5 separate regions of the Homo sapiens genome follow, and regions 2, 3, 4 and 5 are each reported to be linked to region 1. The links are microRNA targets in miRTarBase. Many come from high-throughput screens and were not tested one by one. Region 1 holds a microRNA gene; each other region holds the end of a gene's coding sequence.

Region 1 (5,941 bases):
GAGCCCTACCTGGAGGTGAGATCAAGGTGGAGACCAGGGGCTGCAGAATAGAGGGACTGGCTGCCCTGGCCCCTGCTGATTGTGGCCTGGCCCCTGCAGCTCCTCCCACCTCTGCTGCTCGTGGACCGGGGGATTTGGAGGAATTTCAGAGGGGACTGTGGGGCCTGTGGCTTCAGCCTCAGCAGCTTTATTAGGTTTTATTCAGAATAAAAATCTTTGGGTCAGGGAAGGGATGTCTTCCTCTGGTCCCACACTGGGGAGGGCCCTGCTGGATAGCCCTGAGCTGGCCTTGCTGGGTGTCATGGTCTGGTCAGAGGGTGTCCCAAGCCCTTGGCTCAAGTTTGCTGTCCACCAGGACCACTGCCTGGCAGCCGACCCAATGCAGGCTGGGTGCTGAGGATTCAGTTGGGGGTATGTGCCCAGCTCTTCCTGAGTGGAGGCGGGCAGTGTCTGTGTGTGCGTGGGAGGTGAGACTGTGTGAGCATGTCTGTGACTGTGGCTGCGGGTGTGAGCAGGAGGAGGAGAGGCTGAGCTGGACATGCAGGGCAGTCCATGTTGGCTGCAAAGCATGGTGATGGTGGCCCCTGCCCCAAGGGCCTCTCACTGAGGCCAGCAGCTCAGCTGCTGCAGGTCCGAGTGGACCCTGTGGCACATGGGGCCCTCCCCGCACTGCGGCAGACGGTGCTACAGCTATGGTAAGGCCTGGCCCAAGAAGGTGCGCACTCAGCTCTGCAGCTCCTTCGCAGTGAGCTTCCCCCCGTGTGCCCCATACCTACTGGGCTGCCCACCTTCCTGTGACCCCCTGAGCTCCAGCCCAGAAGCCACAAGTCTGCCCTGGGGGCTGGGGCCCAGGTGCACCACTGGGGGCAGGCATCAGGAGAGGTAGCTCCCTGACCGTGACAGAGTCCAGGAAGCTCTTCCTAGGAGACCCCACAGAGACTGACTGTCTAGGGACAGTGCCAAGGGCAGTTTGCCCATGCGCTCCCACCAGCTCTCAAGTGTCCCCCTCCCCAGGCTACTGACATGGAAGGTCCATTCTGGCTAGGAGCCAAGTCCCCTCCCCAGGAAGGAAAGTGGTACAAGAACAAAGCCCCAGCCCCCATCTCTGGCCCCAGAGGAGGGAGCAGCCAGGGGCCACCTTCCCTCCGAGGGAAGGGCCAGGCTGGAGGTCAGAGCTCCAAGAGGAAGCTCCAGCTAGGCTAGGGCCACATCTTGTACCCCGAAGGAACACCCCACTCCCACCAGTCCCTTTGGTGTTGTCCTGGAACGATCCTGGGGCCCCTTCCCCTTCTCTAGGACCAGAAGTGCCCCTGGGGGATGCTGCCTGTCCCCTCACAGCGGGAGGAAGGAAGAAGGGGACGCCAAGCCCCGGGGTCAGTGTTGTGGTCAGGCCGGGGCTTGCTGGGGCTGCCTATGCCACTTCTGTGCCCTCCAGGGGGAACCTGCCCCTGAGGAGACTGGTGGACCGTGTTCTGACTCTGCCTGGCTGACTGGGGTGGGGGTGGGAAGATGGAGGCACCAGTGGCTCCTGCTTGTGTCTGCAGCAGGCGACTTGGGTGGAGGGGCTGGAGGTCTGTGCTGAGGACAGCCGCAGAGGCAGGTTCCCTTTGTGGCCCTGCAGCGGCGGTGGTGGGGGTGGAGATGCCACTGCCTGAAACTCAAATGGTTCCTTTTATCCTGATCTTCTGCTCCCTGCCTTGGGCCTGGAGCTGGGAGAACTTCAGGTGACTCAGACTCCTGCCTCGGATTGAAGCCGGGGAGGAGAGGCTCAGCCTCTACCTGGTTAAGAGGAAAGAGGCAAAGCTGCAAAGCCAGGTCTGGCACTCGCCCCAGGGGAAGGGGGCTTTTGGGGAGGGGGTCGTCCTCTGACTGTTACCGGGGCATCACAGCCCAGCCGGGGCCTGGGATGGGCGCGGGGGAGGCGGCGCAGAGGCGGTGCCGGGCGTCAGCAGGTGGCGCTGGCTTCCGGGGACAGAAAAAAAACCCCTGCAGCAAACCCGAGTGGGTGTCACTGCGGCTGCAGATGGCGGCGGGGGAGGGATTTGTCATTTTCTCCCTGGGCTGCGGAGTCTCACGTGCCTGGTCCTGCACAGCCCAGAGCCGGCTTTGGGGGCGGGATGCGGTCCGGCGTGTCCACCGCCCTCGTTTGGACCCTGGACGCGGACGCAGACCCCCGTCCCCATGCAAGCCTGGTCCTGGGCTGCGGGGGCTGCTCTGGGGCCACAGCGAGCGCCGCCTCCGCCCCGCCCCGCGGCGCAGCGGCCCGAGGAAGGGCAGACTTAGCGGTGACCTCAGACCCTGCCCCACCTCCTCCCACGTTGCCGTGGCAACTGTCCAGGGCGCCCGCTGTGGGGGCGAGGGCCGCACTTGGCCGCCCTCCCGTCCCGCGGGGGCCGCCCCGCCGCCAGCACCGCGGACAGCGCCGCACCCTAGCCCGCCGCCCCACGCACCCGCCCGCCGCTCCCCGTGGACCCTCCCTTTGTCTCCCGGGCCCCGCCGCCCTCTGCGGGCGCCTGGGCGCTCCGCGCTGCGGACACACGTGGCCGGGGGCCGGCTGGCCGCAGCCTGGCCCCGGCCGCAGGCTCCCCCCTCGGCCGCCCTCGGCCGCCCCCACCCGCCCCGCGACGCCAGAGGCGTGCGGGCCCCTTTGTGTCCCGCGGCCAGATCCCCGGCCCGGCAGCTGGGCCGCACTCTGGGCGGGCGCATTGTTCGCCGGATTTGTCCGCGGCGCGAATGGCCGCCGGGGGCCGGGCTCGCCTTCCTCCCGCGGGAGGGGCGCTGGGCCGGACGGGCTCGCGGGCCATTTCCATGAGAAAGGAGCGGCGGAGGCGCCTCTCTTGGCATTCACCGCGTGCCTTAATTGTATAGACATTAAATCAAGGTCCGCTGTGAACACGCAGAGGGGCCCTCAGGGCTGGGGCGGGCGGCGAGCGTCGGGGCCAGGGTCGGGACCGGCTCGGGCTTGCGTGGGGTCCTCGCCCGAGGGGCGCGAACGCTCAGGCGTCTTCGCCGCGTGGCGGGCAGGGCGGGGGCGCTGCGCTCAGCCGACTGTGCTGTCCCAGTCCGCCCCCGACTCGGAGGAGCCCACACTTCTCCCCTTTCCGCGGCAGAGAGTGGGCCCCCAAGTGCGTCCCTCCGGGCGTTCCTGGAGCTGGGGCGCCCGGGAATCGCGAAGACGGATTCCGGGGGTGGGGGTGGTGAGCGCGTGCGCACCCGGCCGCCTCCCGCGGGGCTCCGAGGGGCGCAGAACCGCTCCGACTGGGCGGCGCGAGCTCCTCCGCAGCTGCCTTCCCCTGCCGTCGCCCTGCCCGTGCCGACCCAGGAGCGCGCACCGAATGCGGTTAAAAGAACGAATCTCGATGCTCAAAGATGAAAACTCGTCTCTTTTTACAACCCAGCGAGCTCGTCCTCTCCGCGCGCAGCGGGCCCGCGAGAAGGCGCTCGAGCTGTTCGTGGAGAGAAAGACGGGGAGACCCAGAGAGGCCGCTTGCCCGGCTCGCCCCGGCCCGGCCCCGAGCGTAATTACCAGTCCCGGCGGGAGCCGCTGCTGCCGCCTCCGCTCCCTGCGCCTCCCGCGCCGCCGCCAGTTCCCGCCTGCTCTTCGGCTCCCGGGGGCCCCGCGCGCTGCTGCCCTGGGCGGAGAAGGGCGCGGGAACCCCGAGAAGGGAGCCAGGCAAGTCCCCGAGCGCCGCAGGCCGGCTGCGAGCCGAGTGTCCACGGGGTCCACGCTGCAGGCGCCCAGCTCCTGCTAGCCCGGCCCGGCCCCGATGCAACTGTCCCCGCGCCCGCCGCCGCCGCCGCCGTCGCCGTTGCCTCCGCGCGTATCCGCGCTCCGCTCCGGCACCGGCCGATTATCACTGGGGCGCGCGGTGACGTCACCCGGACACCGGCCCCGCCGCTGCCTCCCCGAGGTGTCCTTGAGAACTGCGGGGCACGCGCGCCGCGCACACGCGCACACACGCACTGCGCGCCTCGTGCCTCCCGCGCATTCGCACCGCGTCCCGCCCCGCGCGCTCCTCGGCTCACGCGGACTCAGCCATCGAGCGCCCTCGACCGTGCCCTGCGCCCGGCGGCCACACGGAGACCCAAGGAAACGCCTGTCTCCCACACACTCCAGCCCCTCACATGGCCCTCCTGCACCCACGCGCGCAGCCCCTCCAGCTGCACATTGACACCTCTAGCCACACCCCGCCACGCGCACGCCTCGCCACGCGCACGCCTCGCCGGCACGCAGCCCAGCGGCACCCGCAGACACGCACCCGCACTCGGGCCCTGACCGCGGGTTCGCGTCTCCTGTCTGGCGCCTGCAGAACGCACTCTGCCGCGCAGCTCACACCGCGGTCCTCCAAGCCTCTCAGTCCTGAGAAAGGCAAGGGTCCCGCCGGCCTCCTGCGGATGGCCCTGCTGGGCTCCGTACAGTGGGGTGGGAATTAAAGGTCGTCCTTCCCCGCCCCCATCGGAGCTTGCGGTTCTCACAGTTTCAGACCGGGATGGGAGCTCTTGCCCGTAGGGACCACGGAATCACAGGCGACACTCCACGGCCCGACTGCAGTCACTGCCAGCTCGATAGGGTCCTTGGGGCGCCCCCGATCTGGCCCTCTAGGGCCAGGGATCAGTGGCTTCCCCAAGCCTCACCGTCCGGAGCCTCCCCCGCTGGCCTTTGTTTAGACTGCAAGGAGCGCAGGCCGGCGCGGCCGGCAGGCCTCTGTCCCCATCTCCTTCCTCCTAGGGCCAACCCAGCCCCTGCGCCATCTGCCCTCGGAGCAGAGCCTGGGCCTCCCTGGGAGCAGGTCCTGCTTCCTTCCTTTTCCACCCTCTCCAGCACTGCCCAGCCCATGGACAGCCGGTTAGGAAGGGCGGCAGGAACTCGGGTTGGTTCTGCCCGCACCGACTCCGCCGGTCCTCAACCATCAGGACGCCCCTCCCCCTTTGGTGCGGCTTCAACCTGACCCTTCCCAGCCGCAATTCCTCGCCCTTCGCAAGTGTCAGGGACAATCTTTCTTTCTCACAGGTCACGCACAAGCCCTCTACTCCTCCACAGCCCAAGGGGAACCTTCTGTTCCAAGCGCAAAGCTCTGGAAGCTGCCCCAAGCCTGCGGGTGCCGGCAGCCTCAGCAGGTGCAAGCCGGACGCTGGAGGGGCTGGAGGGCTGGGGAGGCCAGGCTGCAGCAGCCCCGCTTCATTGGAGACAGTTGCCCTTGGCCTCCAGTGGTCGGAATCGGACCCTCACCCTAATGAAACGGGGGCAGTCCCCAGGGCGGTCCTAGGCTCCCAGTCTGAGGCATCCGCTGTCCATGGTGTTGAAACGGAACCCTGAAACCTCCGCCTCACTTTCGGACTTTATACCCCCAGCCCTCTTCTCACCAAGGGTTGGGGCCAGGGAGGCCGGCTCCCGGCCCCCTCCCCTCCCGTCCCCCACCCTTAGCTTCCTGGACGGGTCCAGGACGCCTCGGGATTCCAGCTCCTTGGAGCTTGTTCCCATTCTAAGGGGAAAGACTCCTTAGCACCCCCCATCGGTACCTTGGCTTCGGGGACCCCAAATCTTTCTTTGGGTCTCTTTTCCGTACAGGACCGGCTCCACCTGGGGCAGGGTGGATCGCCGCCCCTGGCAGACCTGTTCCCTCACCTGGCGGAGCACCTTCGTCCTTCCCACTTTACCTTTGGCGGAGGGCTCTCTGGCAGGCCGGGGTGGGTAAGGTGGAAGGCTGGGGGTCGCCCCCTTCCCTTGGGTCACCCTAGATTTTTGTACATCCCTAGAAGAACCCGGCCCCTCTTGGAGTCCTGAGTAGCGATCGGGGTCCCCGGCTCCCCACTTCCACCCCCGGTGTGCAGCGGCCCCCAGCCAGGCGGGCTGGGGGAAGGGCCGTCCAGGGCTTGGGGGCGGAGCCGGCCGGTAGGAGCCGCGCGGGAAGGGGAGCCCGCCTGCAGCCTCTGCCCCGCC
Region 2 (5,941 bases), not on the chromosome of region 1:
TTGGAATTACAGGCGTGAGCCACCATGCCTGGCTTGATCAATGTCTTAAAACAACCGTTTCTCCATCAAAATGGGTTTGATGGTTCCCATTTTACAGATGAGAGAACAGGCTCAGAGAAGGTAATGGCTGAAGAATTCAGAATTCCAGGGCTGCAGATGGGTGAATTTGGCCACTTGCAGAGAGGTGCAGTTGCCCCCTCTCTTCTTCAGTGAAAGAAACAGGCCGGGTGCGGTGGCTCATGCCTGTAATCCTAGCACTTTGGGAGGCTGAGGCGGGAGGATTGCTTGAGCCCAGGCGTTCAAGACTAGCCCTGGCAACACAGTGAGATCCCATCTCTACAAAAATTAAAAATAAAGAAAAAATGAGGGCCGGGTGCAGTGGCTCACGCCTGCAATCCCAGCACTTTGGGAGGCCGAGGCAGGTGGATCATGAGGTCAGGAGATCAAGACCATCCTGGCTAACACGGTGAAACCCCTGTCTCTACTAAAAATACAAAAAAATTAGCCGGGCGTGGTGGCGGGCACCTGTAGTCCCAGCTACTCAGGAGGCTGAGGCAGGAGAATGGTATGAACCCGGGAGGTGGAGCTTGCAGAGAGCCGAGATCACGCCACTGAACTCCAGCCTGGGCGACACAGCGAGACTCCATCTCAAAAAAAAAAAAAAAAAGAAAGAAAGAAAAAATGAGGCATGGCAGCACGTGCCTGTAGTCCCAGCTACCTGGGAGGCTGAGATGGGAGGACCACCAGAGCCCAAGAGGTTGAGACTGTAGTGAGCTATGATCGCACCACTGCACTCCAGCCTGGGCAACAGAGAGAAACCCTATCTCAAAGAAAAAATATAAAAAAAAAAAAGAAAGAAAGATAATATTCCAGTAAAAGTCCAAGTTTTTTTTTTACTTTCCCTCTCCACCACCTCCCCTAGAAGCCTCCACCCACAAGCCCATCCATTCTGTTTTCCACTTTTTTTTTTTTCTTTTTGGAGTCAGAGTCTCGCTCTGTCGCCCAGGCTGGAGTGCAGTGGCACGATCTTGGCTCACTGCAACCTCCTCCTCCTGGGTTCAAGCGATTCTCCTACTTCAGCCTCCTGAATAGCTGGGATTACAGCTGTGCGCCACCACGCCCAGCTAATTTTTGTATTTTTAGTAGAGATGGGGTTTCACCATGTTGGCCAGGCTGGTCTCGAACTCCTGGCCTCAAGTGATCTGCCTGCCTCAGCCTCCCAAAGTGCTGGGATTACAGGCATGAGCCACCATGCCCGGCCTCTGTTTTCCACTTTTGCACACATATCCACAGATCCGTGATCATGATACTGAATATTCTTCGATCTGATTTTCCTTTTTAATTCGCATAGGCCAGAGTTCAGCAAACTGTTTGTTGTAAAGGACCAGACAATAAATACTTTCGGCTGGGCGTGGTGGTTCACGCCTATAATCCCAGCACTTTGGGAGGCCGAGGCGGGCGGATCACAGTGTCAGGAGATCGAAACCATCCTGGCTAAAGCGGTGAAACCCCGTCTCTACTAAAAGTACAAAAAATTAGCCGGGCATGGTGGCAGGTGCCTGAAGTCCCAGTTACTCAGGAGGCTGAGGCAGGAGAATGGTGTGAACCTGTGAGGTGGTGCGGCTTGCAGTGAGCTGAGATCGCGCCACTGCACTCCAGCCTGGGCTACAGAGCGAGACTCCGTCTCAAAAAAAAAAAAATTTACTGTATTCCATTGTCAATATATCTTTGACACTTTCACAAGTCAACATATGTGTCATGTATGATATTCCAAAACAGGCATTGCTACCTTAAAATGTGGTGGTTATAAGCACCGTGGAGAGAACTTGACTCTTTGAGTCCAATTTTTTTTTTTTTTTTGAGACAGAGTCTCGCTCTGTTGCCCAGGCTGGAGTGCAGTGGCGTGATCTTGGTTCACTGCAACCTTTGCATCCTGGGCTAAGTGATTCTTGTGCCTCAGACTCCCCAGTAGCTGGGATTACAGGTGTGTGCCACCACACCCAGCTAATTTTTGTATTTTTAATAGAGAGGGGGATTTCACCATGTTGGCCAGCCTGGTCTCGAACTCCTGACCTCAAGTGACCTGCCCACCTTGGCCTCCCAAAGTGCTGAGATTACAGGCGTGAGGCACCATGCCTGGCCTGAGTTCAAATTACTACTCAGCTATTAGTAGCTGAGGTGGGGCTGAGGGTGGGCTCTCTGGATTACACCTCATTTTCCCTGGAGATAATAGCATCTATCTGATGGGATTGGGAAAAAGATCGGGTGAGAGCCAGGTGCAGTGACTCTCACCTGTAATCCCAGTGCTTTGGGAGGTTGAGTGGGAGGTCGCTTGAGCCCAGGAGTTTGAGACCAGCCTAGGCAACATAGCAAGACCCACATCTGTGTGTGTGTGTGTGTGTGTGTGTGTGTGTGTGTATAATTTAGCTGAGTGTGGTGGTGCACGCCTGTAGTTCCCAGATACTCAAGAGGATGAGGTGGGGCCAGATGTGGTGGCTCACACCTGTAACCTCAGTACTTTGGGAGGCCGAGGTGGGCAGATCACTTGAGGTCAGGAGTTTGAGACCAGCCTGGCTAACATGGTGAAACCCCATCTCTACTAAAAATACAAAATTACATCCTGGCTAACACGGTGAAACCCTGTCTCTACTAAAAATACAAAAAATTAGCCGGTTGTAGTGGCAGGCACCTGTAGTCCCGGCTACTCGGGAGGCTGAGGCAGGAGAATGGCGTGAACCCAGGAGGTGGAGCTTGCGGTGAGCCGAGATCGTGCCACTGTACTCCAGCCTTAGCCGGGCGTGGTGGTGCACGCCTGTAATCCCAGCTACTCGGGAGGCTGAGGCGGGAAAACCACTCGAACCTGGGAGGTGGAGGTTGCGGTGAGCTGAGATAGTACCACTGCACCCCAGCCTGGGCAACAGAGTACAACTCTGTCTCAAAAAAGAGCGAAAAAAAAAAAAAAAAAGGCTGGCATAGTGGCTCACGCCTGTAATCCAGCACTTTGGGAGGCCGAGGCGGGCAGATCACTTGAGGTCAGGAGTTCAAAGCCAGCCTGGCCAATATGGCAAAACCCCGTCTCTAGTAAAATTCAAAAATTAGCCGGGCATGGTGGGGCACGCACCAGTAATCCCTGTGGCTGTTGGTTATAGGGAGTGGATTCCTATGTAACATTCATTGAACTGTCCCTTTAAGATTCATATACTTGGGTGCATATGAATTCAACTTGAATATGGATTAACAAAGAGAAAGTAACATGTGGTTGGTGATGGGGGAAATGAACCCTCTCAGGACTTAGGGTGGGAGTGAAAAGACTGACAATGATTTGGGCAACAGTCCAGCAGTATTTAGTAAGACTGAGAATGTATCTTCTCCATGTCCCTGGGAGAAGTCCCTGAAGTTCCCCTTCTCTGTAGCTACCGTAGAGAAACACTGTAGATTGTCACTTGGATTTTTTTCCGAGATGGTATCTTGCTCTGTTGCCCAGGCTGGAGTGCAGTAGTGCGATCTTGGCTCACTGCAGTCTCAAACTCCTGGGCTCAAGTGACCCTCCCACCTTACCATGCCTGGCTAACTTAAAAAAAAAAAATTTGTGTAGAGATGGGGTCTTGCTATGTTGCCCAGGCCAGTCTCAAACTCCTGGCCTCAAGTGATCCTCCCACCTCGGCCTCCCAAAGTGCTGGGATTACAGGCGTGAGCCACTGTGCCAGGCCTGCCAGTGTCTTGATCTTGGACTTCCCCGCCTCCGGAACTGTGAGAAATCAATTTCTGTTGCTCATAAATTACCCAGCCTGGCCAGGCACTTTGGGAGGACGTGGTGAGAGGAACGCTTGAGCTCAGGAGTTCAAGATCAGCCTGGGCAACATAGCAAGACCCCGTCTCTACAAAATAAATAAATGAATAAATAAATTACCCTGCCTAAGATATTTCTGTTCTAGCAGCAGGGACAGATGAAGACACACACACGTACACACATGGCCTGTATGCAGTTGTGGGTGAAGTTTATTAAGGCAATACTGAATACCAGAGCATTTCAACAAGGCTTACCACACAGGCCCCAGTACCTTTCTACTCTACAATGAGGCTCAGAAGCTCAGTGTACCACCCCATCCCCAGGAGGCCCACTTAGACCAGAAATCCCAAGTCCATTAGCTACAGGCTGATATTCAGGGACATCGGTGTAAACAAAGAAGTGGGATATGAACTATATCCCTGATTTTTTTTTCTTTTTTTTTTTTTTTGAGACTAAGTCTCACTCTTGTCCCCCAGGCTGGAGTGCAATGGCGCGATCTTGGCTCACTGCAACCTCCGCCTCTCAGGTTCAAGAGATTCTCTTGCCTCAGCCTCCTAACTGGGATAACAGACACCTGCTACCATGCCCGGCTCATTTTTTTTTGTATTTTTAGTAGAGACGGGGTTTCACCATGTTGGCCTGGCTGGTCTCGAACACCTGACCTCAGGTGTTCCGCCCGCCTCAGCCTCCCAAAGTGCTGGGATTACAGGTGTGAGCCACCGCACCCGGCCTATATTCCTGATATTTAACAAGGAAAAAAAATTCTGCAGGGGAGAACTTTCCTGAAAGATATTTTTTCTGGACATCTCTCTCTACTGACTGATAGGGTGAGGCTCAGAACAGGCTTCTTCCAAGCTCAGAGAGGCTGAGAGATGGGTCAACTGGGTGATGCCCGTTTTGAGAGCCTTAGCTTCCCAAGTGGACAGCACAGAAGAGCTGGGAGGAGTGGCTAGAAAATAAGTTTGAAATGAGCCCCGGGTTGAGGACTCCAGAGCACAGCTGCATTATAGAGACGGGGCCCGCTGAGTCCTCTCCTCTCCCCCTACTTCTTCTCCTCCGGGGCTTTCTCAGTGATTCCAGGGGCAAAGGGTCCCACGAGCCACGTGACAGGTGTGTTCTGGGCCACATATTCCACCATGTGGTCCAGGGCCTCGCGGGCGCTGGCGACACGCTCACGGCTCTGGGCCAGAATGCTGCTGGACAGGTCCTGGAAGGAGTGGATGCTGGAAAACGTGGCCTGGAGGTCCTCCACCTGGCGGCGGGCCTGCTGCACCTGGTCCTTCACATTGGTGGGGAGGCCCTGAATGCTGGACCCCAGGGAGGTACAGGTGGCCTGCAGTTGCTGGGCAATGTCCCGGAACATGGTGAGCGCCCGGGACTCGACCTGCTGAGAAGGGAGATGGGGACACCAATCAGGACCATTTGTTTCAGGAAAGGCGATCGGAGCTGAAGCCAGGGAAAGAGGGGAAGAGGGGTTCTACCACTGACCTTGGGGCAAACGCTTTCCATAGGCGAAACTTTTTTTTTTTTTTTTGAGACGGAGTCTCGCCCTGTCGCCCAGGCTGGAGTGCAGTGGCACAATCTCAACTCACTGCAAGCTCCGCCTCTCAGGTTCGCGCCATTCTCCTGCCTCAGCCTCCCGAGTAGCTGGGACTACAGGCGCCCACCACCACGCCAGGCTAATTTTTTGTATTTTTAGTAGAGACGGGGTTTCACCGTGTTAGCCAGGATGGTCTTGATCTCCTGACCTCGTGATCCGCCTGCCTTGGCCTCCCAAAATGCTGGGATTACAAGCGTGAGCCACCGTGCCCGGCCCTTTTTTTTTTTTTTTTTTTTGAGATAGAGTCTTGCTCTGTTGCCCAGGTTGGCGTGCAGTGGCATGATTTTGGCTCACTGCAACCTCCGCCTCCCAGGTTCAAGCGATTCTCCTACCTCAGCCTCCCGAATAGCTAGGACTACAGGCGCGTGCCACCACGCCCGTCTAACTTTTGCATTTTTAGTACAGATGGGGTTTCACCATGTTGGCCAGGCTGGTCTTGAACTCTACCTCAAGTGATCGGCCCTCCTTGGCCTCCCAAAGTACTGAGATTACAGGCATGAACCACCGCGCCCAGACTCTTTTCTTTTAATTAGAAACAGGATCTCACTTTG
Region 3 (5,941 bases), not on the chromosome of region 1:
GAGCAAGCACAAGAGTGCCCAGGGCAGGACACTCTCCCCACAGGCCCTGCCCCTCAGCTCCCAGGACCAGATGCGCCTTCCCTGAGCCTCCTACCTCTGCTGTTGGCATCCCTGAATTCCTCTAGCCTTTCTACTTATTTTTTACGGCATTTGCCACCATATTAGATGCTGTTTAATTTATTTGCTTATTATGTTTATTTGTACAGCTGTCACTCTCTGTTACACTATAAACTTCAAGAAAGCAGAGAAGATTTGGGAGAGTTTTGTCTTTTTTGTTCATTGATGTCTCCCAAGCACTTAGAACAGTGCTTGATACATGGTAACTGTTAAATAAATATTTGTTGAGAGAAAGAATGGGAAAGAGGGAAAGAAAAAAAGAAAAAAGAACGCTTCCAGGCACGGCAGTGTGTGTGCACCTGTTGTCCGAGTTACTCAGGAAGCTGATGCAGGAGGATCACTTGAGTCCAGAAGTTCTGAGCTGTAGCACCCTATGCCTACTGGATGTCCACACTAAGTTTAGCATCAATATGGCAACTCCTGGGAGTAGGGGACCACCAGGTTTCCTAAGGAAGTATGAACTGGCTGGCCCAGGTCAGAAATGGAGCAGGTCAAAACTCCTGTGCTGATCAGCAGTGGCACTGTGCCTGAGATTAGCCACTCCACGCCAGGCTAGGCAACACGGCAAGACCCTGTTGCAAAAAAAAGAAAAATAAAATAAAGGAAAAATAAAATTCTCACAAGCAGACTGTAGGTGCCTCCCCTGAAATGGGAGAGTAAACTAGTTGGCTTCTATGCCTCTTCCAAATCAAACAACCTCTGATTTCGAAAACAACTCACATCAGAATTTCAAAACATAGCCACCATAGGGATTAATGAAACTAAAACTCAGAAGACCAGATTCCCTCACTTATAATGTGGGAATGTGATAAACTGGTCAAAAATCCTCAAGGATTTTTGAGACTCATGCATACAAAAACTTGGGAAGCTCTGCAGTGCTACACAGGGGTGGGAGGCATTGCAACCTTTTTCACTACGAGTGTAGACCATCTGTGGCCTGAGGCAAGTGTCTGAGCTGCCACAAGCCAGGCCAGGCGTAGACTCAGTGAACCCAGGCAGAGGACCAGCTTCCTCCTTCAGATAGCCCCAAACTCAGCCACTAGGCCCCTCATATGCTTTCATTCATCAGCCCCTCAACCCAGTGCCTCTTGGTTTCTCTTCTTGCCTTCTATACAACCCCCAGGGCTTTAACTCTCTTGCAGACTGTGGGCTCCTTGTAGACAGTCCTCTATGAGCATTTTATCTTCACTTCTTCAGAACTGCCAGCATAGTCAGTACCAGACACTCATTGATGTCTAAGGGATGTCTTTTCCCATCTGAATTAGCCTGAGAGCTTGTGAACTGGAGTTGGTGGGAGACCCACCCATAATGGAAATCCTCTCCTCGCTCCTTCCTCTGTTACCGTCTATACTGCTGGCATCTGCTAAGGCTCTGTCACCTGTCAGTCACAGGGCAGATGCTCAGAATCAGAGGCAAATGAGAGCCCTATCTGCCTTAAGGGAGCCCACAGTTTAGGGGGTCCAGGAGGTGCATAAGGCAGCTAGAAGATAAGTGCACAGAGGCCAAGGGCTGGGAAAGGCCTACCTGGGGGTGCAAGATTGAGAAGGATTTCAATTAATGGAATCTGGGTAACCTAGAAGGAGGGATGTGGTGAAACAAGTCACGGATGAGAAACAGCCAGAGTCCAGCACATGGAGGGCCATGGGCAATGGAGCTGGTGGGACTGGGTAGAAGTGCCTCTGTGCTGGGCTGGAGAGTCGGGACTCGATTCTGTAAATAGTAGGGAACTGTTGGAAGTTTGCATAAAGAGTAGGTGGTTTAGAAGGGTTAATATGGAAGCATGATGTAGGTGGACGGGCAGGCCAGGAGGTGGGGAGGCTACAGTGTGGGCAATGAGAAAGTGAATGTTATGGGGAAGGGCACTGGGCGGGTCATAGGAGACACCGGCTCTAGTCTCCCTGGGTTAAGCCATTAATTCCAGGTGGGATCCCGCACCCTCATTCTGAGAAATGAATTTCAATGAGATGATCTCTGTGCTTCGTCTCAGCTCTATCGTTTATTGAACTAAATGATGTAGAGCTCTTTCCCAGTCTCAAAACTGCTCTTGGAATGCAGAGATGGTTTCTCATGTTATTGAAACAACTAGTTCAATTCTTCTGTGACTACAGCAATTACTTTATAGATAATTGCAGAGCTAAATTTGGTGACATTCCCTCAGCTAGGTCAGAAAAGGCAAATATGGGATTTTTTCACTTTAGTTTTAATCCTTTAGGTGCATATTTGTGGTCCACCTAATGCAAAAACGTTTCATGTTATATACTACATTATATACATTAAAAAGATGACTAACCTAACAATGGAAAACAAGAAACCGTAAACATTTAGAAGAGAATGACCACTGGAGATGTTAGAGGGGGTGGAATTTGGCTCTGAGCTTCCCAGCAGCCCGAGCAAAAAGAGAGCATAGTAGGAATTGTAGTTTAGTGGCCTCATTCATATGAACAGTTTTCTTTCTTCACGGTTAAGCATTCCATTTCATTGGACACACTCAGGTAGGTTCCTTATGGTAATCACAAATAGAGAAACTGGGATGACTGAGCTGGGCTTCAAGAATCTTAGGTACACAATTAATGTGAGGTTGCTTAACTTTCTTTTGGCTCTTGCACACACACAGGGGCAGAGGCCGTGAGTGATTTGGGGCCTGTAAAATGCAAACGAACGGAAGTTTTTTGAATGACAATTCAAAAAGAAAGGGTGCATTATTTTTTAGTCTGGGGATGGGGACTAGGAGAATTAAAGGGCATTTTATCTTATTTTCTACATGGCGAGACCATCAGAAAGATGTCCATGGTAGTATCACCAACCTCGTATCTCAAGGGTGTGCGATAAGCAGGATAAGGAGGACTGAGTTCTAAACTCCTACTTGCCTTTATAAAATGACCAAAGCGGCTGGGCATGGTGGTTCACGCCTGCAATTCCAGAACTTTGGGAGGTCGAGGTAGGTGGATCACAAGGTCAGGAGATCGAGACCATCCTGGCTAACATGGTGAAACTTGGTCTCTACTAAAACTGCAAAAAATTAGCCGGGCATGGTGGCACACACCTGTAGTCCCAGCTACTCAGGAGGCTGAGGCAGGAGAATCGCTTGAACCCGGGAGGCGGAAGTTGCAGTGAGCCGAGATTGCACCACTGCACTCTAGCCTGGGCACCAGAGTGAGACTCCATCTCAAAAGAAACAAATAAAAATGACCAAAGCAGACAAGGACACATGGCTTGGTGTCTCCCATCTCTGCCCCTGACAAACTGTGTGTCCAGGCAAGCAAAGCTGTCTCATCTCTGGACCTGCTTTCTTCTCAGTGAAGCAAAAGGCCTTTTTCTTTTTTTTCGGCTCACAGTTAAAAATCTGAGATGAACAAAACCCTAGAGAAATAACCGAGTACAACCTGACACTCAAAAGAGAAATAGGTTATTTGTACACTTTTAGTTCTGAGAAGCTGCTTACAAGCAAGGCTCTTATGTCCCAACAGGTAAACTATCTCCTTAACACACAAGTCTTGGCTCTGTCTTCTGGAGCCTGCAAGATTGATCCCATTTCCAAAGGGCAGCCCAAGTAGCCAAGACACTGCTGTGTAATAGGAATGGCAAGTAGAGAGCCATGCCACCCATATGGGGTCTCCATTGTGACCCCAGGGTCTCTCCTGCACCTGGTACTTGCTCTGGACTACGTAACTGTCACTCGTGAATTACACTTTGGTGAATCAGGTTGAGTTCATTGAAGGGAGGAACCCATTTCCATCTGTTTATTCTGCTTACTCTGCTTAGCCTAGAACCTCCACAGATCCTAGTGAATGTTTTTAACAATGAATTCTTGGAGACAAACTATGCTCTACCTTAAAATAGAAGACTGTCTGCCAATGGGACGAATACTACCAAAGCCCAATACAAGCGAGTTAAACAACCCTGTGGCTATTTTTACTTTTCTTTTAAAGGGACTGATCTGAGGTCTCAGCTTAATTCCACTAAGGAGCCACAGTATACAGAAGTGCTCTGTAAATTATCAAATGCCATTGCTACAATGCACACAATAGTCGCTAATAACATCTCTATTCTGCATAATCTTGGAGAACTGCCTTAATTTCCCCAAACTCAGTTCCCTCCACCTTAAGTGGGGACAATGACTCATGCCCCCCAACCAGGATTGTACAGGTGCAAAAAGGGCTATTTACGGAAACCAAATTCCCTCTATAGGTTATGGATTATTTATGGTTGCTCCTTAAGGGACAGAGTGTAATGCCATTAAGGAAAAGGTTGAGTTGCATCATTTAATTTTAAGCTATTTATTTTCATAAACATGAGGTATTTCAAAGTGCTATAAGATGCAGCACTAAATATATACATTTTGAAGAAATTAAACACAGAACTTTGCATTTACCCAGTTCTATGCACCAAACATGAACAAATACATTAACAGGAAGAAACAGGCTAGGAAAAAGGCATATATATATAGTAAATTTCTTTACAAAAGTTTCTTAGTTCAAAAAGTGATAAAGTAATATCTACTCAAAACTTTCACAACTCATTTTCATACGAAAATATAAGTATCAAATTTAGTTATGTATCAGCGTCATACTAAAGTATACAGGCAGTGTAAGAATTAGTACAGTACATAACAGAGATTAACAATATATTTGTATACAAAACATGCTCCTCAAACATTGAGGTATTATTACAGTACTTAGGTATGAACTTCCAGTCTAATACTGGCCGCAAAAGCCACCTCTCATTACCCAGGATGTATACAAAAGGCGGATGTGTCAATGGTATTTACAGAAATGTTCCCCAGGGGTATCAAATGGCAAACCCCTTATGTGGCATCTGCTGGAACTTAAGCACCATTTTAAAAAGAAGGAATGACTTTCTGTTGTTTGGAAACTTGGAACACACAAGGTGACTTCAACAGCCCCAGAGGCTCCCAACCGTCACCAACGTTTAGCGCTGTCATGGAGGTGAGGTGGAGGAGGCTGCAGGGCCACCCAGCATCCTGGGATGCAGGCTCTCCAAGGTCCCAGCAGAACCCCACACTGGTGGTCCTACTGCCCACCCAGAGCCGAACTCGACAGGGGACCGATTTGAAAGTAAACCAACATTCTTAATGTCAACACAATGTTTGTTTAAAAAAAAAATCAAAATGTGCAAAGTGGCAGTGACTGTCCAGTTTTGAGAAGCGTCTAGCAAGTCCGAGCGTGTTCAATTTTCTTTAGCAACTGCTGCTGTCTTGCCTGCAATTTTTCCTTTTCCAGCAAAAGCTGGTGCTCCTCGGCCTGGAGGGAGTGGACATACTCAGTGGCCTTTTTCAAAATGACCACCTTGGCGGCCTTCTCATTCTTTACCAACTCCGGCACGTGGTCCCTGAGCGTGAGAAAGCTGGACCGAAGGTCGTTGCGGCGCTGGCGCTCCAGGATGTTGTGGTTTCTGCGACGCTCACTGTCCTCCGAGTCAGAGTTTCGGGGGCTCAAGCTCTTAGCCTTTGGGGGGATGACACTCTTGAGCGGACGTGGGGACGCCTCGCTCTTTATCTTCTTCTGTGGGGGTGCATCCTCACTCTCCACGTAGGGAGAGGGGGCGGCATAGTTGTGCTGCTGGTGGATGGGAAGGCATCGTTTGAGGATCAGCTCGCTGGACTGAGCCCTCCCGGGACCCAGGGCTGCGTTCTTGGGACGCACAGTGATGGTGAATGTGGTGACAGCCTTGGTGTTGGAGGAGGAACGCCGCTTCTCCACAGTGACCACGTCGATTTCTTCCTCTTCATCTTCCTCTTCATCATCTTCATCATCTGAGAGAAAGATGCTAGTTACTCTCATGTGAGAACCATTTGAATGAAATT
Region 4 (5,941 bases), not on the chromosome of region 1:
TTCTGACAGTATTTTAATTAAGCATGCATAATTTTATTAATGTGTATTATGGCCTTAAGATATTTTTACTCTTCCTAGCCACAAAAACATGAGTAAAAAATTACAGCATAACTCTTACTGTAGTTTAGAATATTTCTGTGAACATTATAGTTAAATTTCTGTAGTTTTGGTAGCAGTGAAAACTTAGAATTCTGTTTGGTCCCATGGTGATACCAACTTGCGATGGTCTCTGAATAGGGCAGGCTTTCAGTCAAACAGCAGCTCCACTCGGCCAAAGAGCCTGCCCATGACCTGGCCGGGAGACTTCCCCTTCTGCACATCTTGGAGAAGGGAAGGGGCTAGACCTGCTTGACCCAGGCAGTCAAATACCCACTCAACTCAGCCAACAGCCCACTCCACAAGAGTCAGTCCTCAGTTGCACATTTCTAAGGACGTCGCCTCTGGACCCATCTGGCCAGAGCAGTGACTCCATCTAACCTCGGAACCCAGCTTGCAGTGCTGTCCAACAGCAGATCCCAAATAGTGGAATTGCCTGAGCAGGGGACCAGCATCCTGTGACCGGCCTGGGCAGAAGCCATCACAGTACCCAGCCAACAGCTCCACCGACATCCGAACAAAGACCCAGCCAACTGGAGAACTTGACAAGCACTGCGGGCCAGGGTGGTCTTCAGGTGGCCCTTGCAGAGCCACAGGCTGGACCGATAGGAAGCTTTCACTGACGAAGAATACCTGTAATGACCAGAAGAGGGGGCTGTTGCCCACATGCAGACAACAGCACAAAGACACAAGGATTACGAAGACTGGGGGAGTCGTGACGGCTCCAAAAGAAACTAATAAAGCCCTAATAAGGGAAGGTTTCCTCCATTCTCGGACGGGTGCTTTCAGGTACAAGTTAGAGTTCCAGTTTATTCTTGAGAGGCTGAAAAAATTAGCCTTATGCCATTAACCTGAGAATACGTGTTCTTGACCAGGCATCTTCAGGGTTTTCTGAAGTAGTCAGATTGTGTATTCTTTTACGTATTTGCCTATCAGACCTTCACTTAGGTGTATTCACTTAGGTGTATTTCTCTCTCGTGTTCTTTTCCAGAAGAAAATCCTCAGCAAAGTGAAGAATTGCTTGAAGTAAGCAACTGATGGCATTTGAGAATTTATGTATCACTGAGTTTTTTGGGAATATCTTCGTGGAGAATTACGCATCAAATTTGATTCTCAGAGCAATAAATTATCCATGAAGTGCTCTCGTTCTCAGTAGCGGCATCATGGCCAGTAGTGTCTTTGAGGAGTTCACCACTTAGATTACTGAGTAATTGTGGTTTCCACATTTGAAAACAACTCCTTTTATAATTATTCACTGCTTTTTGTCAGTGAAATAGACATCTTGCCTCCTGAAGTAGCTTCATCACAGAGTGTCATGAAGACAGACAGTCAGGCTGAAATGGACAGTTCTTTGTGGACTCTACCCTTCCCTTCAAGGAGTATGTCATATATCACAAAAGAAATTGCCTTACACTGGTTCATGTTTGCAGTTACTGTTGTACATTGCATAGATGTACACACGAATTTAAATGTGATGTCTTTGTATATATCTGTATAATGTTGAGATTACTTACGAAATATGTCTGAGTGACACTTTTCACCCTTGTACAGCCAAAATAATGTATATATGGAAAGTGACAGACAAATTCTCTAATCTCTTTGGTACCTATAACTTATTAGAATCCTCTGGATGAGGGTTAGAAGAGACTTTTTCCAAACTTCTACATGTAGAAGTATCATAAATGTGCTACACATTTATGTTTGTGGATTTAATTAAAGTATTTTAATATGGTTTTCAGTGCTAAAATTGGAGTCAGATACTTCTTGGTTTTAAGCTGTCTACCTAATTGCTGTCTCCCAGCAGACTGGTGGCATGCCCAGTGGCTTTGGGGGCAAGGATAGAAATGCCATCAGGAAATAGCTGAATTCATTGTGAAACATGAATTCAGTCATGGTGATAATTGGAAACTCCTTTCAGGTTTTTGCAAGTAGATTTTGTAATGTTTGTGTATGCAGCCTTGCTGTTGAGTCAGTCCAAGGGGTTTTACTTAGGACAAGTTGTACCTTGCCCTCTCTCCAGCTCTGCTCCCACATTTTCACATACCTAGCTGTTTCTACCTCATTGGGTAAGTCATTTACCACTCTGTGCCTCAGTTTACTCTGTAGTTTACCATTAGACTGTGAGCTCCTTGAGGGACTTTGTCATAATCACTGTTACATCCCAGTGCCTCACACCATGCCTGGCCCTTAAGAAGTGCTCAATAAATGTCTGAACAAATAAGTGAGTGGAGTGAGTGAATTGTAAGATCAGAATAATAATATTTGGTTTGTCTATCGTACAAGATTCCTGTATCGTTTGAATATTGCTTTTAAAGAAATATTTGAAGCGACTTCAAATTCAGACTGTGTTTAAAAAGATTTAAAATCGGAATCCAAAATCAAAGTATTAAAAAATAATGCTGAGTGTTTAGGATTCACATACCTCTGAGCTCTGGTGGCTTTTGCCAGTCCTGTCCCTCTGCTGAGCACCAGCCCTTCCTGCAGCAGTCCTGCCGGTGTGTTTCTGTGCACCTGGGGATGAAGTGTGCTCCTCCCCCAGCGGTTAGCCTCAATGCTTTTCCTCCCTCTGTTTTATTATTTGAAATTAGCCAAAGAAAAGCTGCAGGGGGCACTGCTGATCATCACTGGACTGGTGGGTCGTACTGTTTGACAGAATAGGGAATACAGGAGGAGGAGCAAGCCTAGGGTAAAACTTAGGTTTGGGACATGCTTGATGAAAGCAAGAGTTGAGCAGGTTGTTGTGTGTATGTAGGTCAGGTGCTCAGCGGAAAAGTCTGAGCTGTGTAGTACGTCAGGCAGATGTCAGTTTAGATGCGATAGTTTAAGCCACAAGAGTAGGAGAGGTCATCTAAAGAGTACAGCAGGCCTAAGGGCATCTATATTTAAGGAGAAATACAGAAGAAGTCTCCTGAGAAGGAATAATGGGGCGGGTGGGGAGGGAGAAGGCAGTGTCCCAAAAACCAACAAAGGTTTTACCAAAGGTAATACCATCATTTCTGAGCAGCAGTTCCTTAACTTGTGAATGTGGCAAATGTTCTCCTTTACAAATTGTTCTGAAGGTAAAATGAGATCATGTAAACGAAAATCCTTTGTAAATTACAGATGTGTGTTATAAATGAAGTATCTCTCGAGTCACTCCATCTTCTGGCGTTGGGTCTCTGATTCTTAAAACGGATAAAATAAGCATGAACTCGTTTCTGGGCCCCTCCTCCTCACTAACCCTAACCTTTCCAACCTCACTGTCCCATCTCTGTGCGCACCGCTTCTTCCTTCAGAAACCTTGAGCGATCCGTGTTTCCTTCAGGCCGAAGTGCAGACTCTGGATATAGAAGGGCCCAAGGCTTGCTTACCAATCCTGCCTTGGTACCTGCCTTGCAGACCTTCACCCCAGTAAATTGGTCTCATCGCTACCTGAAGCACACAGTGAACTTTCCCATCTCCCTGCCTTTGCTCTTATCCTATCCTCTTCCTGTTCTCTGTGTTTCAAAATCGCATCCCTATTCTGGACCTGGCTTCACCCATGCCTCCCCTTTACTCCTACCCTGCATGCAGTTTATACACAGCACGCAGGTGGCCATCTTCCTTCCTCATAAGTTGCTGCGGCTACGTTCCCAGCTGCCATTCCATGTTGTCAGAGTGTAAGCTCATGTCTTAATAGGTATTTCTCATATTAATGTAGTGTATGATAGGGTTTGGCTGTGTCCCCACCCAAATCTCATTTTGAATTGCAGTTCCCATAATCCCCATGTGTCGTGGGAGGGACCAGGTGGAGATAACTGAATCATGGGAGCTGTTTCCCTACATCCTGTTCTCGTGATAGTAAGTTCTCACGAGATCTAATGGTTTAATAGAGGGCTTTTCCCTTCGCTCGGCTCTCATTCTCCCTCCTGCCACCATATGAAGAAAGACGTATTTGCTTCCTCTTCCACCATGATTGTAAGTTTCCTGAGCCAGCCATGCTGAACTATGAGTCAATTAAATCTGTTTCCATTATAAATTACCCAGCCTTGGGTATGTCTTTGTTAGCAGTTTGAGAATGGACTAATACAGTAAATTGGTACCACAGAGAGTGGGGTGCTGCTGTAAAGATACCCAAAAATGTGGAAGCAACTTTGGAACTGAGTAACAGGCAGAGGTTGGAACAGTTTGGAGGGTTCAGAAGAAGACAGGAAAATGTGGGAAACATTTAGAACTTCCTAGAGACTTGTTGAATAGCTTTGACAAATTGCTGATAGTGATATGGACAGTGAAGTCCAGGCTGAAGTGGTCAAGATGGAGATGAAGAACCTATTGGAAGCGGGAGTAAAGGTCACTCTTGCTATGGAAAGAGACTGGTAGCATTTTGCCTCTGCCGTAGAGATGCATGGAACTTTGAGAGAGATGAGTTAGGGTATCTGGCAGAAGAAATTTCTAAGCAGCAAAGTGTTCGAGAGGAAGCAGAGCATAAAAGTTTGGAAAATTTTGCAGCCTGATGATGGGATAGAAAAGAAAACTCCATTTTCTGGGGAGAAATTTAAGCTGGCTGCAGAAATTTGCATAAGTAACGTCAAATGTTAATCACCAAGAGAATGGGGAAGATGTCTCCAGGGCATGTCAGAGACCTTCCAGCAGCCCCTCCTATCACAAGCCTGGGGGCCTATAAGGGCCCCCCCCCCACCCCCCGCTCTATGCTGCATTGGGACATGGTGCCCTGCATCCTAGCTTCTTCAGCTCCAGCCTTGGCTAAAAGGGACCAACATAAAGCTCAGGCTGTTGCTTCAGAGGGTGCAAGCCCCAAGCCTTGGCTTACACATGGTGTTGGGCCTATGGGTGCACAGAAGTCAAGAATTAAGGTCTGGGAACCTCTGCCTAGATTTCAGAGGATGTATGGAAACACCTGGATGTCCAGGCAGAAGTTCGCTCTCTGGAGAACCTCTGCTAGGGCAGTGTGGAAGGGAAATACGGGGTTGGATCCCCCACACAGAGTCCCGATTGGTGCACTGCCTGGTGGAGCTGTGAGAACAGGGCCACCGTCCTCCAGACCCCAGAATGGTAGCTTGCACTGTGCACCCGGAAGAGTCCCAGACACTCAACACCAGCCTGTGAAAGTAACCAAGGTGGGGGTGGGGGTATACCCTGCAAAGCCACAGGAGTGGGGCTGCCCAAGGCCATGGGAGCCCACCTCTTGCATCAACATCACCTGGATGGGAGACACGGAGTCAAAGGAGATCATTTTGGAACTTTAAGGTTTAATGACTGCCGTATTGGATTTCGGACTTGCATGGCACCCGTAGCCTCTTTGTTTTGGCCAATTTCTCCCATTTGGAATGGGTGTATTTACCCAATCCCTGTACCCCCATTGTATCTAGGAAGTAACTAACTTGCTTTTGGTTTTACAGGCCCATAGGTGGAAGGGACTTGCCTTGTCTGAGATGAGACTTTGGACTTGGAGTTTTGAGTTAATGCTGGAATGAGCTAAGACTTTGGGTGACTGTTGGAAGGGCAGGGTTATGTTTGGAATTATGAGGACATGAGATTTGGGAGGGGCCAGGGACAGAATGATATGGTTTGGCTGTGTTCTCACCCCAATCTCATCTTGAATTATAGTTCCCATAATCCCCACATGTTGTGGGAGGGACCAGATGGAGAAAATTGAATCATGGGGGCTGTTTCCTCCATCCTGTTCTCGTGATAGTAAGTTCTCACAAGATCCGATGCTTTTGTAAGGGGCTTCCCCCTTGGATCGGCTCTCATTCTTCTCTCTCCTGCCACTATGTGAAGAAGGACATGTTTGCTTCCCCTTCCACCATGATTGTAAGTTTCCTGAGGCCTCAGCCATGCTGAACTGTGAGTCAATTAAACCTCT
Region 5 (5,941 bases), not on the chromosome of region 1:
AATTTTTGTATTTTTAGTAGAGACAAGGTTTCACCATGTTGGCCAGGCTGGCGTCGAACTCCTGACCTCAGGTGATCCACCCGCCTCGGCCTCCCAAAGTGCTAGGATTACAGGCATGAGCCACTTCGCCCAGTCTTAAAGACCTTTTTGAAAACCTCACCCTAGTGGTTTGTTTTTTCTCTCTCAAAGAATGGAGAATATAAAAGAATCTTCTGGTAGTTGTTGAACAAATAAAACTAAATACCACGTTTTGAAAACTATACGTGAAGGGTTGAGTTAAATGTGTGTGTTATTTTCCCCTTTCCGTCAGCTCTGGAGGCTGCCATCGAGAACCTCAATGAAGCCAAGAACTATTTTGCAAAGGTTGACTGCAAAGAGCGCATCAGGGACGTCGTTTACTTCCAGGCCAGACTCTACCATACCCTGGGGAAGACCCAGGAGAGGAACCGGTGTGCGATGCTCTTCCGGCAGCTGCATCAGGAGCTGCCCTCTCATGGGGTACCCTTGATAAACCATCTCTAGAGAGGACATCCCTGCTGGGCTGCTGTGCAGAGTATAAGATTTTGGACTTGTTCATGTCCCCTCTCTCCCTATAAATGATGTATTTGTGACACCCTATCTTGTCAATAAACAGCATTCTGATTAGTTTGTCTTATTTTGTTGCTAGTAACTACGTATTTGTTTTATTCCCCTTTTCTTCCCTTTTGGTAGCAAAGGACACCAACTTTTTCTTAATAAATGGGTATTTTGCTAACAAGTTAGTGCAAGCATCTCAGATTATGTTCTCTCTGGGCAAAATTGCCAATATCTTGATTAGAAATTGTACACACTCCATCATTATGTAAATTCATTTAGCACCTATTCTCAGACAAGAGCTCTTCCTGGAATTGGTAGATCTCTCCAGGGTGGTCAGTGCAGGTCTGTATGAGGCTTGGACTTTCTTCTGAGGCCTCCCTGCCTTGTTGGACTGAACCAGCGCTTGTGGTTCCTGTGGCTGCTCACGAGGACTTGTTGGTCCCTGACTGGAGATTAAGAAGGAAAAGATTTTTTCATAATTTTTGGACCAATGACCAGGAGCATTTTTCAGTCCCTTTCTAGATGTTGGCTTTCTTATATATTCTGCATGGGCACTTTTTTTTTCTATATTTAACTCTATAAATGAGGGATGATGATAAATTACGTCCAGGAATTCATCATGAGTAAGGTGATTATAAATTAAGGGGGCCGGCTGCGGTGGCTCACGCCTGTAATCCCAGCAGTTTGGGAGGCTGAGGCGGGTGGATCATGAGGTCAGGAGATGGAGACCAGCCTGGCCAACATGGTGAAACCCCATCTCTACTAAAAAAAAAAATACAAAAATTAGCTGGGCATAGTGGTGCATGCCTGTAATCCCAGCTACTCGGGAGGCTGGGGCAGGAGAATCACTTGAACCCGGGAGGTGGAGGTTGCAGTGAGCCAAGATCGCACTACTGCACTCCAGCCTGGCGACAGAGCAAGACTCTGTCTCAGAAACATAATAATAAAAATAAATAAGAAAGGGTCCAAAGCTCAGAGGTGTGAGATGCTATCACCAAATATATAGTGTATTATAGTTTACATTTCTTAACCCTGCAAGTAAGCAGGAGCCAGTTATTGCTTTTTCTGTTCATGAATTTCTTATCCTTGAGTGTTCACAGAAAAATGCCATTGTTTCAAGTCCAAAGCAGCAGCTATATCCAAATAGTTGTGTTTTTTTGTTTTTGTTTTTTTAGATGGAGCCTTGCTCTGTTGCCCAGGCTGGAGTGCAGTGGCGTGATCTTCGCTCACTGCAACATCCACCTGGGTTCAAGGGAGTCTCCTGTCTCAGCCTCCCAAGTAGCTGGGACTACAGGCATGCACCACCACGCCTGGCTAATTTTTGGATTTTTAGTAGAGATGGGGTTTCACCATGTTGACCAGGTTGGTCTCAAACTCCTGACCTCAGGTGATTCACCTGCCTCAGCCTCCCAAAGTGCTGGAATCACAGGCGTGAGCCACCGTGCCTGCCCCAAATAGTCTTTATAAAGCAACAGGGAACCAACTAAATTGTGCAGCTCCTATTATTGGTTCTTTCTCTGTTAAATTTCCCATCAGAAAGTTTTTCTGATGGGGAGTAATTTCTCTTCAGGGCTCTTTGAAGCAGTGTAAAACAGTTGTATCCATTACGGTACATTTGCTGGCCAAAGACAGCTGCTCTGGAAACAAGAGACTTGGTGGAGAGATAGAGACTAATTGGTATGTTGACTGAAAATCTTAAATTCATTTGAAAGGTTATATATAGAGATGGTAAACATTGAATAATATTAAAGGCTATGTAGTAAAAAGTAATTCTTCAGCCTGTAATCCCAGCACTTTGGGAGGCTGAGATGAGTGGATCACCTGAGATTAGGAGCTTGAGACCAGCCTGTCTAACATGGTGAAACCCCGTCGCTACTAAAAATAAAAAAATTAGCTGGGCGTGGTGGCGGGCGCCTGTAGTCCCAACTACTCGGGAGGCTGAGGCAGGAGAATCGCTTGAACCTAGGAGGCAGAGTTTGCAGTGAGCCGAGATCACGCCATTGCACTGCAGCCTGGGTGACAAGAGCTAAACTCTATCTCAAGAAAAAAAAAAAAGTACTACTTCCTCTTAGGAGGTAACTTATCAGTTCCTTTTTATTCTTTCAAGTATATTTTTTCATCTGATGTCATTTTTGATTAATGTATTTAAAGTAAGAGCCTTTCAATTTAAGAAGTGGCCTTAGCTACTCTGCCTCAGCAGAAGGTTGAATAAATGGGGTCAGGTTGTTCAGGTGACCCCACAGATACCAACATAAAAGCTTGATGTCATCACGCCTGACCAGGACCAGCTATGCAACTCATGGAATCCAGTGCAAACTAAAAATGTGAGGCCTCTATTAAAAAGTAAAAATTTAAAAGGCTGGGTGTGGTGGCTCACACCTGTAATCCCAGCACTTTGGGAGGCTGAGGTGGGCAGATCTCCTGAGGTCAGGGGTTCAAGACCAGCCTTTGCAACATGGTAAAACCCCATCTCTACTAAAAATACAAATATTAGCCAGGCATGGTGGTGGGCGCCTGTAATCCCAGCTACGTGGGAGGCTGAGGCAGGAGAACCGCTTGAACCCAGGAGGCGGAGGTTGCAGTAAGCTGAGATCGCACCACTGCACTCCAGCCTGGGGCGACACAGTGAGACCCTGTCTCAAAAAAAAAAAACATAAAATAATTTCAAACAGCAACGGCAGAGCCTTAAACCAATATAGGGCCCTTCTGAGCCCACAGCCCTGCACAGTTTGCACACCTGAAAAGCCAGCCTGCCCAAAGCGCCTCTCAGCTGATGGCAGCTTCACCCTAGCAGGGAGACAGGGCCTAAATCCAAAGCTAATAGAAGGGGTCTGGGGTCTCCTGCTATCTGTGACTTAGATTTGTTGATTGAGGGGCTTGTCTCCTCCCTGATAGCAGAGTGGGTTGAATGAAAAGTAGAGACATTTGTGACCCCAAAACTCAGAACTGTCGGGGTGACAGCTAACTGGCTTTTCTCCTGATAGAGCATTTGGTGGGGGGAAAAAAAGGAGTCAATAATTTCATAATGATGTGATGATGAGTGGTTTAAGGGTATAAGAATTGATCGTCTGGTTAAATGGGGAAAAGGTTAAATGAGGAGGGAATTGAAACTTTTTCTTTTTTTTTTTTTTTCTTGAGATGGAGTCTCGCTCTATTGCCCAGGCTGGAGTGCAATGGCGCAATCTCGGCTCACCGCAACCTCTGCCTCCCAGGTTCAAGCGATTCTCCTGCCTCAGCCTCCCAAGTAGCTGGGATTACAGGAACCCGCCACCATGCCCAGCTAATTTTTGTATTTTTAGTAGAGATAGGGGTTCACCATATTGGCCAGGCTGGTCTCGAACTCCTGACCTCATGATCCACCCGCCTCGGCCTCCCAAAGTGCTGGGATTACAGGCATGACCCACCGCACCTGGCCGGAATTGAAGCTTTTTAAGCAGCAGGCATTCGGGTCTATACCCGAGATCTTCAGGATGTATCCTCTAAGGGAGAGAAGGAAAAAGGTGTTCTGACCTGGTGGCACAGTGGGAACTCTACCCAGCAGCCGTGTGCCCTGTTTTAAGTTCTTAGCTATATTAACACGTTTAATCTTCACAGTAATTCCAAGAGTTAGCAATAGCATGAATTCCATTGAACAGGATAGGATGGAGGCATAAGGGGGTTAAGTTACTTGCTCAAGGCCACGCTGCTGATAGGTTCCAGGGCTGGGCCTACCCTTAGAATTTTCAAAAGTACTGTCCTGTTTTTGTGAACATTGTTTTTCAGTTTGTTGAACACATAAACGATAATATTAGTTGTTATTTACGTAGTGCCCAATGTGGGCCAGACACTGCTATGTACTTCCACACATACCATCTCTAATGCTTGTGAGCTAAACATCATCCCTGTTTTACAGGCAGGAAAGCGGGCCCTGGAGGTTGGGCCTGACCCAGCCCCGACCTTGGTGAGGACCAGAATCAGGATTCAGCCCCAGAAGTGATGGGCTCCACAGCCTAGGCTCTTTCTCACATCACCAGGCTGCCTTTGTATTCACCTCCATACTCTGAATATTTCTACTTGTTCAAAGTGTTTTAAATTTGGTCCTAATATTTTTGGGTGGTTACACTGGCTTTTTTTTTTCCTGTTTCTTTTTCTTTCTTTCTTTTTTTTTTTTTTGAGACCGAGTTTTGCTCTTGTTGGCCAGGCTGGAGTGCAGTGGCGTGATCTTGGTTCACTGCAACCTCTGCCTCCCGGGTTCAAGCGATTCTCCTGCCTCAGTCTCCCTGCCTCAGCCTAGGATTACAGGCATGCACCACCATGCCTGGCTAATTTTGTAGTTTTAGTAGAGACGGGGTTTTTCCATGTTGGTCAGGCTGGTCTAGAACTCCTGACCTCAGGTGATCTGCCCGCCTTGGCCTCCCAAAGTGCTGGGATTACAGGTGTGAGCCACCGCGCCCGGCCAGTTTTTTTCCTCGAAGATGTATGCTGAGACAAATGAAAAGCCTCCTCATCTGTGCCCCCATCACTTCTTCTATGATGTTGTTTATGTTTGGGACTAGTAATCTCACTGCCTGTTGAAGTGAAACTTCTCAAGATCTTCTTTCTGACAGCATTTTTCTTTTCTTTTTTAGAGATAGTTTCACTATGTTGCCCAGGCTGGCCTTGAAATCTGAGGCTCAAGTGATCCTCTTGCCTCAGCCTCCCAAGTAGCTGGGACTGCATGCGCGTGCCTCTGAGCCTGACTTGACAGCATTTTTTTCCTTTTCTTTCTTTCTTTTTTTTTTTTTCTGAGACGGAGTCTCGCTCTGTTGCCCAGGCTGGAGTGCAGTGACACGATCTCAGCTCACTGCAACCTCCTCCTCCCAGGTCCAAGCGATTCTCGTGCCTCAGCTTCCTGAGTAGCTGGGATAACAGGCACGTGCTAACATACCTGGCTAATTTTTGAATTTTTTAGCAGAGACAGGGTTTCACCATGTTGGCCAGGCTGGTCTCGGACTCCTGACCTCAAGTGATCCCCTGCCTTGGCCTCCCAAAGTGCTGGGATTACAGGCATGAGCCACCGTGCCCAGCCCCACAGCATTTTTCTTTCCTTTTTTTGAGACAGAGTCTGGCTCTGTCCCTCAGGCTAGAGTGCAGCGGCCCGATCTCGGCTCATTGCAACCTATGCCTCCTGGGTTCAAGTGATTCTCCTGACTCAGCCTCCTAAGTAGCTGGGATTACAGGTGCCTGCCACCACGCCTAGCTAGCGACAGCGTTTTTCTACTGTCCTGGTGAATGGGAAAAAAAAAAATTCAACAAGTGCTGTAAATCAAAGAAAATGACCCAGGCAAGTCTCAATCATTTTAGGAGGCTTACTTGCCAAAGTTAAGGAACTACCTGGGAGACAGGT

Evidence for each region. Region 1 holds the annotated microRNA hsa-miR-124-3p (UAAGGCACGCGGUGAAUGCCAA, at 2,838-2,859, opposite strand). A microRNA usually pairs through its seed, bases 2 to 8, with sites in the 3' UTR of a target mRNA and lowers its output. Matches are read on the target gene's strand: a 7mer-m8 pairs with bases 2 to 8, a 7mer-A1 pairs with bases 2 to 7 and ends in A, and an 8mer does both.
Region 2: the mRNA of PLIN3 is a reported target of hsa-miR-124-3p. Seed matches in the 3' UTR shown: 7mer-A1 at 4,004-4,010.
Region 3: miRTarBase lists MYCN as a target of hsa-miR-124-3p. The part of its 3' UTR that is shown has no 7-base or 8-base seed match.
Region 4: the mRNA of E2F6 is a reported target of hsa-miR-124-3p. Seed matches in the 3' UTR shown: 7mer-A1 at 1,501-1,507.
Region 5: miRTarBase lists ANAPC5 as a target of hsa-miR-124-3p. The part of its 3' UTR that is shown has no 7-base or 8-base seed match.

Annotation. Positions count from the first base shown.
Region 1 is chr20:63,175,470-63,181,410 of GRCh38, reverse strand. It overlaps MIR124-3 (microRNA 124-3), which reads right to left and starts at 2,911; the gene lies at 2,825-2,911. RefSeq lists a silencer at 2,127-2,416 and an enhancer at 2,704-3,664.
Region 2 is chr19:4,834,360-4,840,300 of GRCh38, forward strand. It overlaps PLIN3 (perilipin 3), which reads right to left. Exons shown (of 8, transcript NM_005817.5): 8 at 3,982-5,177. The coding sequence ends at 4,833. Among named protein-coding and RNA genes, the nearest start is that of TICAM1, 5.6 kb to the left of the region's middle.
Region 3 is chr2:15,945,442-15,951,382 of GRCh38, reverse strand. It overlaps MYCN (MYCN proto-oncogene, bHLH transcription factor), which reads right to left. Exons shown (of 3, transcript NM_005378.6): 3 at 4,379-5,890. The coding sequence ends at 5,286. It also overlaps the pseudogene RN7SL104P. Among named protein-coding and RNA genes, the nearest start is that of MYCNOS, 6.7 kb to the right of the region's middle.
Region 4 is chr2:11,441,670-11,447,610 of GRCh38, reverse strand. E2F6 (E2F transcription factor 6) reads left to right here. Exons shown (of 7, transcript NM_198256.4): 7 at 1,088-3,236. The coding sequence ends at 1,134. Among named protein-coding and RNA genes, the nearest start is that of E2F6, 22 kb to the left of the region's middle.
Region 5 is chr12:121,303,061-121,309,001 of GRCh38, reverse strand. It overlaps ANAPC5 (anaphase promoting complex subunit 5), which reads left to right. Exons shown (of 17, transcript NM_016237.5): 17 at 311-757. The coding sequence ends at 522. Among named protein-coding and RNA genes, the nearest start is that of CAMKK2, 9.3 kb to the right of the region's middle.